Regions from separate parts of the Homo sapiens genome. Here regions 2, 3 and 4 are each reported to be linked to region 1. The links are microRNA targets in miRTarBase. Many come from high-throughput screens and were not tested one by one. Region 1 holds a microRNA gene; each other region holds the end of a gene's coding sequence.
What was found. The annotated mature microRNA hsa-miR-3154 reads CAGAAGGGGAGUUGGGAGCAGA and lies in region 1 at 1,307-1,328, opposite strand. An mRNA with a match to its seed (bases 2 to 7 or 8) in the 3' UTR can be bound and repressed. Matches are read on the target gene's strand: a 7mer-m8 pairs with bases 2 to 8, a 7mer-A1 pairs with bases 2 to 7 and ends in A, and an 8mer does both.

Region 2: miRTarBase lists IFNLR1 as a target of hsa-miR-3154. Seed matches in the 3' UTR shown: 7mer-A1 at 2,797-2,803, 7mer-A1 at 2,662-2,668 and 7mer-A1 at 2,506-2,512.
Region 3: the mRNA of SYT7 is a reported target of hsa-miR-3154. Seed matches in the 3' UTR shown: 7mer-m8 at 2,785-2,791, 7mer-m8 at 2,484-2,490 and 7mer-m8 at 1,509-1,515.
Region 4: the mRNA of SNORC is a reported target of hsa-miR-3154. Seed matches in the 3' UTR shown: 7mer-m8 at 901-907.

What each region holds. Positions count from the first base shown.
Region 1 is chr9:128,243,650-128,247,797 of GRCh38, forward strand. It overlaps MIR3154 (microRNA 3154), which reads right to left and starts at 1,381; the gene lies at 1,298-1,381. DNM1 (dynamin 1) reads left to right here. Exons shown (of 22, transcript NM_004408.4): 16 at 2,745-2,854; 17 at 3,726-3,837. It overlaps MIR199B (microRNA 199b), which reads right to left and starts at 1,181; the gene lies at 1,072-1,181.
Region 2 is chr1:24,153,421-24,157,420 of GRCh38, forward strand. IFNLR1 (interferon lambda receptor 1) reads right to left here. Exons shown (of 7, transcript NM_170743.4): 7 at 748-4,000. The coding sequence ends at 3,710. LOC124903879 (a long non-coding RNA gene) reads left to right here. Exons shown (of 3, transcript XR_007065544.1): 2 at 1,592-1,772; 3 at 3,835-4,000. Among named protein-coding and RNA genes, the nearest start is that of IL22RA1, 12 kb to the left of the region's middle. RefSeq lists enhancers at 1-74, 75-672, 673-1,270.
Region 3 is chr11:61,515,055-61,519,054 of GRCh38, forward strand. It overlaps SYT7 (synaptotagmin 7), which reads right to left. Exons shown (of 13, transcript NM_001365809.2): 13 at 1-3,677. The coding sequence ends at 3,573. Among named protein-coding and RNA genes, the nearest start is that of LRRC10B, 8.3 kb to the left of the region's middle.
Region 4 is chr2:232,875,911-232,879,910 of GRCh38, forward strand. It overlaps SNORC (secondary ossification center associated regulator of chondrocyte maturation), which reads left to right. Exons shown (of 3, transcript NM_001394206.1): 2 at 30-212; 3 at 337-2,790. The coding sequence ends at 446. NGEF (neuronal guanine nucleotide exchange factor) reads right to left here. Exons shown (of 15, transcript NM_019850.3): 15 at 2,791-3,769. The coding sequence ends at 3,579. Among named protein-coding and RNA genes, the nearest start is that of SNORC, 7.6 kb to the left of the region's middle. RefSeq lists a silencer at 579-648.

The sequences.
Region 1 (4,148 bases):
CTGCAGGCTCCCTAGATGCCCCCATGGGTTTGGGGTCTCCCATGTTGAGGTTCCTTACTCAGGGCCAGGGAGACCATGTGACCTGGGGCTGAGGGCCGGAGACCGGGTGACACTGTGGGGGAGGGGCACGTGCCACTGAGGGGGTCCCCTGATCTCATGCCTGAGCCTGCAGGCCTTTCTGGAGCTTTTGTGTACATCTGAGTTAAGTCGTGTGCGAAAACAGCTCTGAGAATCATATGTGGGGAGATGGGAGTCAGCTGTGGGCTGTGGGTGCTGGGAGGCGGGGTGTGTTTGTGTGTGTGTGTGTGTGTGTGTGTGTGGCTTGTGGGTCTGGTGTGTGGGTGTTTTTTAGGAGTGTGATTGGAGTATAAGCATCTAGGTGTGTTTGGAATATGTGGTCTGCATTTGCATCTGGGGGTGAAATCTGTGTGCCTGGGGAGTGACTCTGGGCACCTGCCTGTGCTTGGGGTGTAAAAGCAGGTGTGTGTGGGGAGGGGGCTCTAGGAGGGAGGGTGTGAGTATGGGGTGTTTGAGAATCTGTGTATGTCTTTGGGATGTGAGGATGGGGGGAGTGTTCCAGTTGTGAGGGTGTGTATGGGTGTGTGTGCATGCACTTGTGTGTGTCCGTGTGGGACATGGGTGTGAGATTGAAAGTGTGGGGGTGCTCATGTGTGTGAGTTCTGGGGCTGTGAGTGTCAAGGTGCGTGTGTGTTGAATGTGAGTGGATTCTTGCACTAGGACCACTGGGGATGTGGAGGTGGTCCAGGCTGGTGGGAGAGTGGTCTGTACTTCTCTACTCAACCACCAGCCCTCAGGTTTTGGGGTGAGGGAGGCTCTTTGGGCAGACCGGCGGCTGCCCACATCCCCAGTCCCCATTGACCCCCCCATCCTCTCAGTCTTCCTCGGCCACCCTTCCCCCATCACCGCTACCCCCAACCAGTCCCACACAGGGTGGCACCCCCATCCATCTGTGCCTCCTCCCAGCCCGCCCTGTGCCCCAACCCCCTGGCTCCAGGCTCCGGTTCTGGGATGGCAGGCAGGGGTCGGTCCAGCTCTCCAGTGGCGGCGGTGCCGAGGGTCTAACCCAGCCCAGCCTAACCAATGTGCAGACTACTGTACAATTTGGGAGTCCTGAACAGATAGTCTAAACACTGGGTAGACGGAGTGGAGGTGTCCTCTGGTCCATCCAGGCAGCAGTGTCTGTCCATCCGGTGGGCGCTTCAGCCCCATCCCCTGGAGATCCGAGAACCCCCCAACCCCAGCCTGTGTCCCCCTAGCCCCAGACCAGCCAGCCCGTGGTCCCCTCTCTGCTCCCAACTCCCCTTCTGCCTCCTTTGACGTGGCAGGGGTGAGCGGGAGCTGGGGCTGAGAAGGAGGGGCCTGAGGAGGGGGCCGGCCGGCAGGAAGGGAGGGGTGGGGGGAGGAGGCCGCTCCTACCTAGTGTCCAACCCCGAAGCACAGGGCGGGTGGTGGCGGGGCCTCTCTCGAACGGTTCCAGATGTTCCCTGGCCGTGTGTGCAACTTCCTCCTCTCCTCCCCCAGCCGCCCTCTGGGGCTCCCGGCCACCCGCCTGGCATAAAGAGGGCTTTATGTGGCTGCATGGGCCAGGGGGGCGTTGGGGGCAGAGAGGGGTGGGCGGGATGACGCCAGGACGGGGGAGCAAGGTCCCCCTAAACCCAGCCCCCCACCTGAGATCCTAGGCAAGGCTCATGCCCAACCTCTTTGAGTCCCCGAGGCCCACACAGACGACCCCCGTGAACAAGTAGGGCATGGGTGACAAAAACCCCTCCCCTCTCCCAGAGCCCCATCCTGGGGTACCTCCTCCCTAGATCCCTGAACCCCTCCCCTGGGACACAGCAGCCTACATACACATGTGCCCACACCGAGCACACACATGGGCCTAGCACCCCACACGCCTGTGCACAGATACACATAACTCCTCCCAGACAGCTCTAGATAAATCAAACACACAGCCCATTGTACCACGGTGTGCAGGTAAGATGTGTACCCCAGTATAAGTCCACAGGCATGGCTCTGCAAACATGTAGGCTCGCACAATTGCCACACACATCCACAAAGTGTGCACACATCCACACTGAGATGCAGACACGCTGACACCGACACATGGTTCATGCTGGGCACCTCCCCAGATACACATGTGCACACACACACAATAGCTGATAGGATATGTACTTGGGCTTGCATGTGTTGGCACAAACACACAACTACACACATGTTGCACACACAGGCACACCATCTCCAGGCTTGTGCTGGCTGCCTTATTGCTAACACATGGGGAGCTCGGGGGAGTGGGCTGAGCCGGCCCTTTGAAGCCGCCGGGTCTGGTGGCCCCCCTTCCTGGTCTCTGCAGTCAGGAAATGAAGTCAGAGGCGGCCAGGCCGGGGGTGAGAGAGGCCTGAGTGTGCGGTCCCTGCCTGAGGCTGGCCTGGCTTGTATCCAGGACTTGCCTGGGGAGGGATTTTGGGAGCCACTCTCAGCCTCCCCACCCCTCACCAGCCCCCTGGCCCCCGGCATATATGCAGAGCTGGTAGGACTGGCTCTGCGGGGGTCGGCGGTGCCCAGGAGGCCTACGGTCCGTGGCCAGGCTTTTATCTAGCTGCACCTTCGCAGTGGGAGGGGGCTGATGCTTAGAAGCCCTGGGCCAGTCAGGGGGACTCTTAGAGAGTGAGGTGTGGCAGAGAACAGTGCCAACCTCACCCCATTGCTCCTACCTGCACCCACAGGAGAAAGAGAAGAAATACATGCTGTCTGTGGACAACCTCAAGCTGCGGGACGTGGAGAAGGGCTTTATGTCGAGCAAGCATATCTTTGCCCTCTTTAACACGGAGCAGAGGTGCCTGCCTGCCCCTGGCTGTGGCTGCTGCAGCCCCAAAACCACCCTCACTGAGTAGAAGCTGGGTACAGGGATCCAGGGAGGAGAGGAACCTCCCCTAGGCCCCACAGCAAGCCATCCACTGACAGATGCTTATTGAGTTCCTGCTTTGAGCTAGACATCATGTCAAGATCTCCCATCCCCTCCCCTTCCCTTCCCTCCTCCTTCCCTCCCTCTTTTCCTTCCTCCCTTCCTTCCTTCCATCCTCCCTCCTTTCCTCCCTCCCTCCCTTCCTCCCTTCCTTCCATTCTCCCCTTCCCTCCCTCCCTCCGTCCCTTCCTCCCTTCCATAGTCACTGGTATAGTGCATGCTCTTCATGAGACACTCTGCCAGGCACTGGAGCCAAAGGGCCCTAGTCAGGCCTGGTCCTCTTCTCCTGCTCTCTTTCCTATAGGGTGGTGGCAGTACTAGTCCTCTTCCTTCCTGACCCAAGGCTGACTCTAGTGGGCCCTCTGCTACTCGGAGATGAGAGTTCAGTCCAGCGGCCATCAGAGGGGTCCTTAGAGAGCCACGGAGAAAGCTGGTGGGATCTGGGCCCCAAGCTAGAGACTTCACTGACTATGGTTGTCCTCTTGTCAAAGGTCCAGTCCCCTTCTAAGCATTTTACCACTCACTTCACTGAATCCTCAGTGACCCAAGGAGGCAGGAATTATTATTAACCCATCTTCCCAGTGAGGAAACTGAGGCTGAGAGGAAGGGACTTGCACAGGGTCACACAGCTGGGAAATGAGCTGGCCTCAGGCATGTTGACCCCAAAGTCTGGGCATGCCCTTAACCCCCAGGGAGGGTCAGACTTTGCCCATCTGCCCTCACTGCCTGCCCTATCTTGCAGGAATGTCTACAAGGATTATCGGCAGCTGGAGCTAGCCTGTGAGACACAGGAGGAGGTGGACAGCTGGAAGGCCTCCTTCCTGAGGGCTGGCGTGTACCCTGAGCGTGTTGGGGTGAGTGGCAGGGCAAGGAGAGGAAGGGCAAGCATGATCCTAGGGCCCCTGGGGCACCATCCTCAGTGATGCCAAGTCATGCCATGTTTCCGAGCCCTTATTTGGCTCAGAAATAATAGGAATCCTCCCCCCTACCCACTCTGGGGGTGGGAACAGAGATAAGTCTCCTGGTATTCCCATCCTTCTCCAGTGGCAGTTTTGTGTCTCTGTCTCTGTTGCAGATGGCATTTCCTCCATCCCCTTTCTATGATGGTAGTTTCTTGTGACTGCCTTCTCTTTTCTCCCCTATTTCACTGTGGCGATGTCTAGAG
Region 2 (4,000 bases), not on the chromosome of region 1:
CTCCACACTCCCCTCCTCCCCTACCCTCCGCCCCATCTTGCCTCCACACTCCCCTCCTGGCGTTACCTGGATCACTGCACTGCTTTCTACCTTTCTACCTTTTCTCTGGGTTTGCTTCTGGGGACCCGACTCAAGACCCTTGTAGTCTTTTTTTTTTTTTTTTCTGAGACTGAGTCTGGCTCTGTTGCCCAGGGTGGAGTGCAGTGGTGTGATCTTGGCTCACTGCAAGCTCCACCTCCCGGGTTCATGCCATTCTCCTGCTTCAGCCTCCCAAGTAGCTGGGACTACAGTCGCCCGCCACCACCCTCGGCTAATTTTTTGTATTTTTAGTAGAGACAGGGTTTCACCATGTTAGCCAGGACGGTCTCGATCTCCTGACCTCGTGATCTGCCCGCCTCGGCCTCCCAAAGTGCTGGGATTACAGGTATCAGCCACCCTGCCTGGCTGACCCTTGTAGCCTTAACAGCTAGGTTTCCCAGAGGAGAGGTGAGGAGCCTTTGAAAAATAAGAGCATAGGCCAGAAACGGTCACTCACACCTATAATCCCAACCAACACTTTGGGAGGCCGAGGCGGGAAGGATTGCTTGAGCCCAGGAGTTTGAGACCAGCCTGGGCAACATAGGAGATTCCATCTCTACAAAAACAAAAAAATTAACCAGGCCTGGTGGGGCATGCGTGCATGACAGAGTGAGATCCTGTCTCAAAAAAAAAAAGATAAGAGCATACGCTTTTCCATTCAATTGTACCTTTTTTCTTTAAAAATAGAGCTCTTTATTTAAACAGTTTAGGGTAATACCAACAAGCAGTAGGATATCGTTTAAATATGACATAAACATAGAAAAAATAGAAATAAATACAAATACATAAGAACAACATATACCGTTAGTAGTCTAAAGGGATACATGTTGCTTTCACCTAAGGCACTAACACTTTTCACGGGATATGCTTCCAGCGCAGGCCCAGCCCACACCGCGCAGTTCCCACCTGCTGTGCACGTGAAAGGGCTTTGTAAACAGTTAAGTGCTGACCACACAAGGCAAATTATTATACTGATTATCATGCCCTTTCCAAATGCTTCTCCTGGCTTTTTGTGAATGACTTAATGACGATAAAGGAGATGGAGTTTAGAGTTACTGGAAAACTTAAGCTATGTCAGAAATTAAACTCTGGAAAAAATTCTTTAAAAAAATAGTAAGGTTTGGCTGGGCGCGGTGGCTCACGCCTGTAATCCCAGCACTTTGGGAGGCCGAGGCGGGCGGATCACCTGAGGTCAGGAGTTCGAGACCAGCCTGGCCAACATGGTGAAACCCCGTCTCTACTAAAAATACAAAAAAATTAGCCAGGTGTGGTGGCGGGTGCCTGTAATCCCAGCTACTTGGGAGGCTGAGGCAGGAGAATCACTTGAACCCGGGAGGTGGAGGTTGCAGTGAGCCGAGATTGTACCACTGCACTCCAGCCTAGGCAAAAAGAACAAAACTCCGACTCAAAAAAACAAAACAAAACAAAAATGGTAAGGTTTAAGAATAGAAACGGAGTGGTTATTTCATACAAGTCTAAGATGATGCTGATGATAGCTTTTACTTTTTTGAAGTTACCTCCACGAAGCAGCTCGGCTGGTGCCAGAGAGAACATCGGTACAGGTCTGGGAATTTCCCTGGGAGCTGGCCCCAAGCCACAGCCCTCCCCAGCTCCGTAGTTTGTTTGTTCTTCCTCTCCTGGGCTCAATCATCTGGACAAGCCTCACTGCAGGGAAAACCCCTGGGGAGACACAGGTGTGTGTCGTATGTGTGTATGCATGTGTGTGTGTGTGCCCCAGCAGCGGTGAAGGCCTCCTGACCCTTAGAAATCCTGGCTGTGACCTTCATATTTTACTGACATGGACAAGGGGTCAGAGGTTGGCCCGGCTGTGCAGAGATCGAAGCTCTTACCCTTGGGGATGTGCACAAGTCATCAGAGCAGCACTGCTGGGCGACCTTGGACAAGTGCCTTTGCCACCCTTGACCTCAGCTCCTTTGCAACAAAAGGAGTGGTTTGCTAACTTTTTCTTGAGTAGTGGATCCCTCTAAACAAAACCTCACGTGGAAAGCCACAGTGTGTGAATCAGGGCACAGTGAGGCTGCTCTGGTGAAAGTGGGAGGCTCCTATAGCCCCATGGCGCCCCCTGCAACTGCAGCCCAAGGCCTCTGGGGGACATGGTTTGAGAATCCCTGGATGAGATGCCCTAAGAAGCTTTTCCAGTTCTGCCATTTAATGCTGTACCCTTGTGGTGGCTTTAAAGCAACACAGCTCTGTGGGTTCAATGGCTTTGAAGATCCCTTCTTCACAAATCCAGAAATGTTAGTCCTGGCAGGTTGAATGGCCACAGAGCCAAGGTTGTTCAGATACTCCACCACAAAACACTTCGGTCCTACGGGTGAAAACTCAGCTACGCTCATCTATATTCAGGTGGGTGTAGGTTAACTGAGGATGCATCAGCACCCCCAGGTAAGGATAGTCACCTGAATCTAGAAGGCATTGGTTTCTCATAACTGGAAGGGAGAATGGGACTTCTAAGGACCACAACGGTCAACCAAGAGTCTAACGTGCCATCCAAACTGGGATTACAGGCCCAGAAGTCCGATTCCTGCCATGTTACTGTCCTACTCCAACAAACTGGGTCCCTAGAAGGTGGAGCAGTTGGTTCCTCCCCTGGGAAGCAGGGTTCCCATTGCTAGGTGAAGGCGGAGAGACCAGGGTCCCCTTGGGTGGGGCTCTGGCTTCTGAGAGCTCACTCTCCTGACTGGGAGGCAGTGAGGGTAGAAGGAAGGAGGTAGACTGGGGATGAGACAAGCTGAATGTTAAGTGCTCTCAGTCACTCTGGGTTTAGGGGCCACAGGTGGGAGATGCCCAGGGGTCTCCTGGAGCCTGGATAGATGGAGAATTCTACCGGCCACCACGTAGAGAGCACCCAGGACACAGCAGGCTCCGTGCTACACACATCTGAGATCCCCTAGAACCCTCACCACACCCAGGCGTAGCTGCAGATGAGGAAGCCGAGGCAGAGAAGGAAGATGTCTTCCCCAAGATCATACAACCAGTGAACAGCAGAGCTGGGATTTGAACCCCGGTCTGTCTGACACTAAAACCGTACAGTGCCATGACTCCAAAGACCAGGATTTGAGGACAGCCACCCTTCCCTTCCCATCCAAAACCCTCAGCCAACTGGATTTTTATCTGGGCCTAACTAGGGGACCCATGAATCAGGAGGCTGAGCCCTGGGATGGGGGAGTTCAGTGGCTGCTGGGAAAGGCATGAGGTATAGCAGGTGTGCCTCCAGTGGTCTCAAGTTCCAGAGGGCCCCTTGGTGGTGTCCGCCCTTGATGTCCGCAGTGACCTGACCTCACCTGTTTCATGTTGTCCGGGGATAATTTTTCCCCCTGGCCTGTCACCCTAGGGACAATGGGGGTGATGACACCCCACCAACCTCTGACCTCAGCCCACCCTGTGTCCACCCCTCTTATAGCTCAGCCTAAAGAGGGCGGGTCACAGGAGGGAGGGGCATCTTGTTGCTCAGCCCGACAGGCAAACAGCCGCTAGGTGGACTTCCCGGAAGTGCAATGCCCCTCCGCCGCCCAGGGGAGGTACGGAGGCTCTTGAGTTTCTTGGGAAGCCCAGTAGTCCTTGCAAAGGCAGCAGCAGCATCAGATTCGGTGGGATGTCGGGGGACAGCTCACCTGGCCATGTAATGCCCCAATGTCCGGCCCCTGTCCTCGGTCCTCTGGGTGCTCTCAGCCCCCCAGCTGCCCGCATCGCTGTCCTCAATTTCTGATTCCCTCGCCTCCTCTTCCTCCTCAGGGCTGCTTTCCCAGCAGAAGGTCAGTGTCTGAAGAGAAACTGGGGGTCCCCCAGGGACCAGATTCGGCTCCGGTGGTAAGGTGCCCCAGGTGGCCCAGGAGGAGAGGTTATCTTCTGGGAGCTCTTCCAGGAAACCCGAGTCCTTGGAGAATTCAGGTGGTGGGAG
Region 3 (4,000 bases), not on the chromosome of region 1:
AAAAAGCCTTGTGTCAGGCCTGATCTGGGAGATGTAGCTGCCTCTCTGCTTTCTGGGAAGCCAGTGGGATCATATTCTATAGAGATCTGAGGATGGCTGGACACTCGGGAAGGGCCTGGTCACCAGTGAAGTCAAATCCCAAAGGTGACACACTGAGGGGAGGCTCAGCCCCGGGGCCCCCATCCCCTTCACCCCACTGCCTCTGCCCCCAGGGAGGTGAGGGAGGGCTGGGACCCACGGAGGAAACAGCCAAGGCCCTACTTTTTCACGATCCTTTATTAATCAGAACAGGCCTTGCCACAAAAAGCAGGGCCCATTCCCACAAAAATATGATTTTGCAAAGAGGAAATCTTGCTGGCTTAGAGGGTATGTGTGGTGGAAAAATTTTGTATGGTTCTTTTTTTCCTGTTTTTTTTTTTTCTTCAGTTTTTCTTCATTTCTCTTCGCTGCAAAATTTTTTTTTTTGTGATGGTGGGTTTTTGTTTTATTTTTTATAAAACACTTGCACTCAAGAACATACAAACAGTGGCCACCAATCCCCACCCCTGGGGCTCCGGGGAGCCCCCCTGGCTTGTTTGTGGCTGTTTTCCTCTGTCCCTTCCCTGGCATCTGGTGCCAGAGGGCAGGTGCGGGGGTCCTGGGGCGGGTGGAATTTGTACAGCACTTTCATGGGGAGATGGTCACAAGAAAGGAAACCAGGACAAGATAAGGACTAAGTCTAGGGCACCCACAAAGATGGCAGACGAAGCCCATGAAAGGGCCTGCGACAGAGTGAAGAGACGGATGGGCCTGCGTTGGCCTCAGCTAGCTCTGGAGGCTCTGTGGGGGAGGGGCAGGTGGGCCTTGCAGTCAGGATTCGGTAATTACACTTTGCTCACGGGTAGCACCTTCGGAGTCCTCCTGCCTTGACCCCCAGGTCAGGTGATGGTGGCCTCACAACCTCCCCTATGAGGTAGGTGAAGTATTATTACCATCATTTTACAGATGGGGAAACCGAGGCCCAGGGAGTGCGGGTGACTTGCCCAAAGTCCTGGGATGGTGGCAAGGCTCCGGTGCCCTCCCCCCACCCTCAAGTTCCCCCATTCTCTGCTCTCCTATTGCCCTAGACCGCCCCCGCCCCATCCCATACCACCCTTACCTCCCGTGCTAGCCTACCCGGCCCTCGGCCCACCGCTTGCCGCCCCAACATAGCATCCCAGAGCTCCACCTGCACGTGGTGGTGGTGGGGCGCTGGGGAAGCCCAAGCCTGGTCGCTAATGTGCCTGGGTGGGGTCTGGTTGGGAAGAGACCCCTGCCAGGAGATGCTCTCTGCATAGGATTGGCTAAGAGCTCTGTGGGCGGGGCTCGGGAAAAATGGGGAGCCGTTGCCCCGCCCACTCGATACAAGTTGGTTGGATCCCCAGGGCGAAGGCGCCTGGAAGGTGGGGGCTGGCTCACTGGGCGGTCTTCCGCGGGGCAGGCGGGTGGTGGGGGGACAGGAAACCGAGGCGGATCCAAGAGAGGAGTGGAGAAGGGCAGATCCCCTCCTCCGCTCAAGACTTCCCACCACACTCTCTCCCACGTCCACGAGGCCTCGGGGTCGCTGCCCTCCCGTCCCGGCTGGGGGCCGCTCCCCAGCCCGCCAAAGAGGAGGATGCAGTTGGGGCCGACCCCATTTTAAGCAAAGCTACAATATAGAAACATTTGGATTTACAAGGAACGTGGGTGACTATTTGCTTTACATTAGCATTCTTCACTCTACAAAACGATTCACCTACTATGTATGATGTTCCTCCAGATCCCAGGGAGAGGAAATGGTGGGGGTGTGCGATTTAATTTCAGAAAATTTCGGTATGGGCAAAAGGCGACCCGTCTACTGCAGCAAGCAGAATGCTCAGCTCAAGGGGAAGCCGTTCGAAGGAAAATGGTTCCCAAATGCCAATGGTCTCCCCACGCCCTGGATGTGGGGACCCTATCCAGAGTCCCCTTCTTCTCTTTGGGGTGTCACAGGCCCATCCAGAGTGGAACTGGGGGCTAAGACCACGGCCACAGACTGTGGGGGCCTGGCGCCACCTGGCGGTAGTTCTGGGAATGTCAGGCCCAGGCTCGTGGACCCCCAGGATTGGAGGCTTTGTCACCAGCTGGGTCTTGTATCAATACCAGGACCAGCGTGGGGATGAGAGGGCTTAAGCAGGGATCAGCCTGAAATCTGCCGTCTCCAAGGGGAAGCCAGTTTTAGTCTCATCAGTGGCCGAGGCAGAGAAACCACAGCTTCTTTGTGTGTGGCAACCTCAGAACTCACAGAATCCTGGTCTTTTCCCTGCCTCCTTTCCCTGCACTGTGAGTGAGTCGGGCAGAAGGAGCTGCTCCCGGGGACCAGGGAGTGGGGAAGGGTGAGAAGACAGTCCTGGAGAAGGTCAGGTGATGGACGATCAGAGACCACGCACGATGAGACGGAATGAATGGAAGGTCTACAAGCATTGGGGGATGGAGGGGTGGAGGAAAGAAGGGTGGAGGTCTGCACAGGCAGGGAGAGATGAGGAAGGGCAGGCAAGCTGGAAAGCATGGAGAATAGGGCAGATGTGGCTGCGTATGAGGTGTGGGAAGCTGGCGGGGGGTCTTTTGATGAAGGAGTTAGGGCAAAGCTAGTCGGGGCTCGGGACCCCCTGAGAAGGAAGGGAGATGAGTCCTGGTGGAATGCTATGCACACAGTAGGTGCCTAAAAGGTGTGAGTCAGTGTTCAAGAGATGAAATTGCTGAGGAGGGAACTACTTCAGATTCTGAGCAGAGGGGGGCACCAAGGGGAGAAGGGGAGGAGACGGGGGGATGGCAGGAGGCAGCCCAGTTCTCAGCCCAGCTCCAGCAACTGCAGCTCTTCTGTTTCTGACCTCTGCCTCACCCGACCCCACTCAGCCCTATGGGCCTCTCCTCTCACACCCCCGGCCTCCAACCCTGCCTGGCCTTCACAAAACCTGCCTTCTCTGTATAGTCCTCCGCATTTCCAGGCCTCTGTCCCCACGCACACACACAATGGACACAACACGAGTACAAAGGGCCACAGCTCCAGGACCCAGGAGCGGGCTATATACTATCCTCGACATTCAGGGCCCAGCCGGCACCTGAAACTGCCCTGGGGATGGGCCTCTCCTGGCCAGGCCGGGGCCAAACGCCTCAGCCTCCCCTCCCCGGGTCCACATCGGGGGCTGGAGAGGGAGTGGCCTCTCTCCACTCCAGGTGCTGCCTTAAAGAAAATGGGGGACCATGCCCACCTGGCGGGCCTCTGGAGGGGTCTGCCTGTCTGGCCGTCTGGCTCTCGAGCTCCCCCAACTTCTTTAGTATTAGTAAGTCAGGAAGAAAAGGGGCAAAGCAGGAAAATGCCTCCCAGAGCCCCTTCCCCGGAGCTGGACTGTGGGGGATGGGGCTGGTACTTCCTAGAAACGGGGCCCAGTTGAGTCCTGGGACCCCTCCCTGGCTGAGCCCTCAGGGTCCTCCCCTCCCTATGGCAGGGGGCTCAGGCCGGGCGTTGTGCATAAAGTGGTGAGGGCATGATGGGGACCTGGGCCCTCGGCCCCCTGGGCCTCCCTTGGCCCCACTCAGGCCTTCAGCTGGTGCCACTGGGCCACGGGCTGCCGGGGACGGGCAATCATGTCCTTCCAGTGCTTCACCTCCCCTGGCCCGCTCTTCCAGGACAGGTAGATCTGGGGAGAAAGGGGAGACGATGGCATCGGCACAGGCTCCAGGGCACTGGCCCTTTCCCCCACAGGGGTGACACCCCAACTCCACCATGATACCCTAGCCTGTGGCCCCCCAGCCTCCACATGCTGTGACAACCTACCCCACAGAGGCGCTCTCCTCCCTCCCCCAGTCAGCCTGATCTATTTTCCTGGTTGTCTACCCCCACACCCCCAAGCCTGGGCACGCCAGGCCTCTCGGAATTAGACTGCCAACCTATTTTGCAGTGGGGTCTGGAAGGTGGGGTTGGAGGCAGCTTGTCTCCATGGCCTTCCCTGCCCTATCTGTT
Region 4 (4,000 bases), not on the chromosome of region 1:
GGCCCCAGCACCTCTCCTTGGCTTTGCAGACGATGTTCCACAGGAGCCCGTGCCCACGCTGTGGAACGAGCCGGCCGAGCTGCCGTCGGGAGAAGGCCCCGTGGAGAGCACCAGCCCCGGCCGGGAGCCCGTGGACACCGGTCCCCCAGCCCCCACCGTCGCGCCAGGACCCGAGGACAGCACCGCGCAGGAGCGGCTGGACCAGGGCGGCGGTACGGGCGGGGCGGGGGAGGGAGGGGAGAGGGAGAAATTAGGAGGGGCGGGGGGCGGGGGGCGCGGGGAGAAGGGCCGGCCAGGCGGGGGCTAGCAGGTGACATGGTCCTCCGTCCTCCGCAGGGTCGCTGGGGCCCGGCGCTATCGCGGCCATCGTGATCGCCGCCCTGCTGGCCACCTGCGTGGTGCTGGCGCTCGTGGTCGTCGCGCTGAGAAAGTTTTCTGCCTCCTGAAGCGAATAAAGGGGCCGCGCCCGGCCGCGGCGCGACTCGGCTGCACTCCTCACGCGCCTGTATGTCCGCGCGTGCGTGTCCGCGCATGCAGGTGTGCCAGAGCGTGAGCGCGCGCAGGCGAGCGCTCAGGGCGGGGGTGCGCGCGGGGCCGAGGGTGGGTGCCGTGCACGCGCGCGGGTCCGGAGGCGCGCCCGAATTCCCCGCAGGGGCGCCGGGGCGTGCGTGAGCGCACAGCATGTCCGAGCCCGCCTGCGTGTGGCGTGCACCTGAGCGCGCGCAGGGCCGCGCGGCTCGGCGTCCCCGTGCACCACGGCTGGAGTGCCTCAGGAGCGCGCCGCATGTGCGTGCCCGGTGCGCGTGCGCCGGGGCCGCCAGGGCATCGGAGCGGGTGTGCGGCCAGCGGTCTTAGCCCGTCCGGGGGCACCGTCACGGTCAGGGCCACGCCACGGGCGGCCCCTTCTCCCGGCGCCGCCTCCTCTGCCTGGGCGCGGGCCGAGGCCCTCGCCGCGCTCCCCGGGGCCTGCCTCCCATCCCGCTCCGCTGGGGTTCAGAGCGTTCCGTGAGGAGGTAAGCGCTAGGGCAGGAGAGGCCGACAGAGACCCCGGGGCCCGCCGCTCCTTGAGGCCGGGGTTGGGGAGGGCAGGGGCCGTCGGCTCTCCCAGCCAGAGGCCGCGTGGTTTTGGGGGACGTCTTGACTCTGAGTCCTGCAGCCAGGGCCCCATCCGCGGGCTCAGACCAGCAGCCCCAAGCCCCCCTCTGCCCAGGGAGCCTCAGGAGCAGGATGAGTCGAGAGTCGACGCCGGACACGGCCCGCCCCTGCTTCCTACTCTCACCCCCAGGCCTGGCTGGGGGCCGGCAGCCCCCACGCCCACGGTTGGTTTGTTCAGGGAGAGAAAACGGCTTTCCCAGCTCTACTCACCTCACTTCACCCTCAGAGAGTCGGGGCGGAGTGAGGGTGAGGAGCCTGGTCCAGGGTCCCCACCTCGGAAGCATTTAGAGATGTAAACTTTGATCCTTTGATCATTTAACCTGCTCAGCACAGCAGGAAGTGGGAACTTGGTCCCTACCCCAGTCCCCAGGGCCTTTGGAGGGAAGGGTTGGACAGTTTGGAGGCCAGCAGACCCCTTGGGGACAGCTTAATGTATCTGAAGATTCCTGAGTGGGAATGTTGCTGGAGGGCAAGCTGCTTCTCTTTTTTAAAAATTCATTTTCTCTAGCAGCTGTTTTGGCCCCTTTGGTGTCCCTGAGCTCCCCATGGCACTGTTTCCTGCCGTGACTTTCTCCTCCTGGACACTGGAGCCCAGGTGGTGCCCGCGCACCTCTCACACACTGGGGGATAGGGTCAAGGCCTCATCCAAGTCTGTTAACAGCTTCCCACTCAACCAGTCTCCCCAAAATACACTGTGAGTTCAATGATTCTGCTTATAAAGGAGTGCTATGAAACTGACCTATTTTCCTAATTGGTTAACTGACTTCATCTCACATAACCTTGAGTAACCAAAGCCTTCATCAGAGCGGACGATCCAACCCAACATGCTGTTTCCCATCCTCAAAAGGCACGGGGACCAATGGCCACCCAACTCCTTCCCAACCCTCCCCTCCAGGGACGAGAGATGGCCCCCTCTTTCCCTTTCCCCACTCTGCAAGCACTCCCCCACCAACGGGTGCATCACAGCCCCTCACTGGGACCAGGGGGCCTCCCTCTCCGGTGGAACCAGTGTCACATGCCTGTGCATCTCTGTGATTCTCAGAGGGTCTGAGGTCCGAGCACCCTGCTGTGGCCTGTGGGAAGACGCTACAAAGTCCCACTGGATCTAAACCAGAGGCCTGTTCTGGCGAGCAGGGAAACTGTGTCCTGGCAGAGATCGTGGTCCTGGGCACACAGGACCCCTCAGCACACTGAGGTGGAGCTGGGGCGAGGGGAGGGGGTGCGCTCTGGGTAACTGAAGGTGTGAAGGGCCCAGGGCCTGTTTCTGGGCAGTGCAGGAAGTCCCAGCCCCATGCCTGTGGTGAGATCCCCTGTAGGGCCCCCCCCACCATGGACACTTCGGGGCCTCTACGGTCTTCCAAAGCTGTGTCCTCATTTCCACTGCAGCAGAGGGGCGTCCCCAGCTCCGTCAAACAGCCCTTTCTGTTTCTGGAGTCCTACAAGTGGAGGCCCAAATCCGTTCCCATGTTGAGGCAAGGCCCTGGCTGTTCCTTCCTCTCTGGAAACCGCCTTGAACTCTTCCTTTGGGACATGCCTCCTCGACCAGCCTTGAAGGGGTGCTCCTCTCTCACTACCTGGAACCAAACACCCCCTTCCTTTGTGTACAAGGGCAATAAAGAGTAGACCTTCATCTTCTTTATTTTATATATGATGCTTCTTTTAATGCAGCCAAAAGTGATATTTGCTTTTCTCAGAACCATAATCGATACAAGATGCAGTGACCAATTCATTCCTTAAAACACCTGGGCTCCTTAAGGGGCTAGAAGACACAAGTTACATCCAGCCCATCAGGGAGCCAGAGGCGGGAGGGGTCCCCAGCCAAGCTCTGGCAGGCCTGCCATGGGGCAGGGCCTGACCGTGCAGCCAGAGGCTGGCAGAGGCCTGGGGAAGGGTGGGCAGAGGCAGCTGGGCTCTCAGTCCTGGAACCGGAGACCAAGGGCTGCTCATCAAGCTCCGTCAGGCAAGGGCGGCCTCATCTGTGCCTGGTAGATTCTAACTGCTTCCAAGGTAGAGGAGGACGCGTGCAGGAAATCGTGTCAATTGTCACCTTCTGCCTGCCTCCCACAGGGACACTCTGGGTTGGGAGCCTCTTCCAGTCCCTGGGGGCCAGGGGCATGGGGGGCCCTGGAGTGTGCCCACCCCCTTCCACCCCCTCGGAGGCATGAGGGAGGTGGTGTAATACTGCTGAAACCTTCTTGTTTACAAATGCATCAGGAGAGGCTTGGGCACCCTTTATCCAGTTTGCGAGCAAGGGGCCAAGACACATGAGCACTCACTGCGTGGGCAGGGATGAGGGCCGGGCACCCCAAGCCAGATCCTGCCACCTGGGGAGGTGCTGGCCTGTGCTTCCCAGAGCCCCCCCCCCCCCACCTTCTGTCGGGGTCTCATGCAGGCCCTGCTCCCGCTGGCCCCCTGGGTGGGGGTCATTGCCGATTCCGGCTGCCCAGCTTCCTGCGGTCCTTGTTCTGGCTGCGCTGAGGGTCATCCATCTTGTGGACACGGAAACATTCCTTGAGGTTCTGGGACCGGATCTTGGGATTCAAGATCTCCTCAGTCATGGAGCTGGGGAACCAGCCTCTCTCCTGGTCGTGCAGACGCTCGCCAAAGATCCACCCTGTGCAGGGAGGGGAGGGAGAGAAGGTCAGTGCTCCTGCAGGGCACAGGCTGCACAGAGGCTCCCTCCTGGCCAGGGCCCCCATCTGTGGCGGGACACTAGGGGTCCAGCTGGCCTTTCCCAAAAGGCAGCGGCTCTGCACACCTCTGCCGAGATGCTCAGACTGGAGTCACCCCCATAAGCTGGGAGGTGCATGAGCACCTGCACGGAACAAGGCCTGCTCCGTGCCAC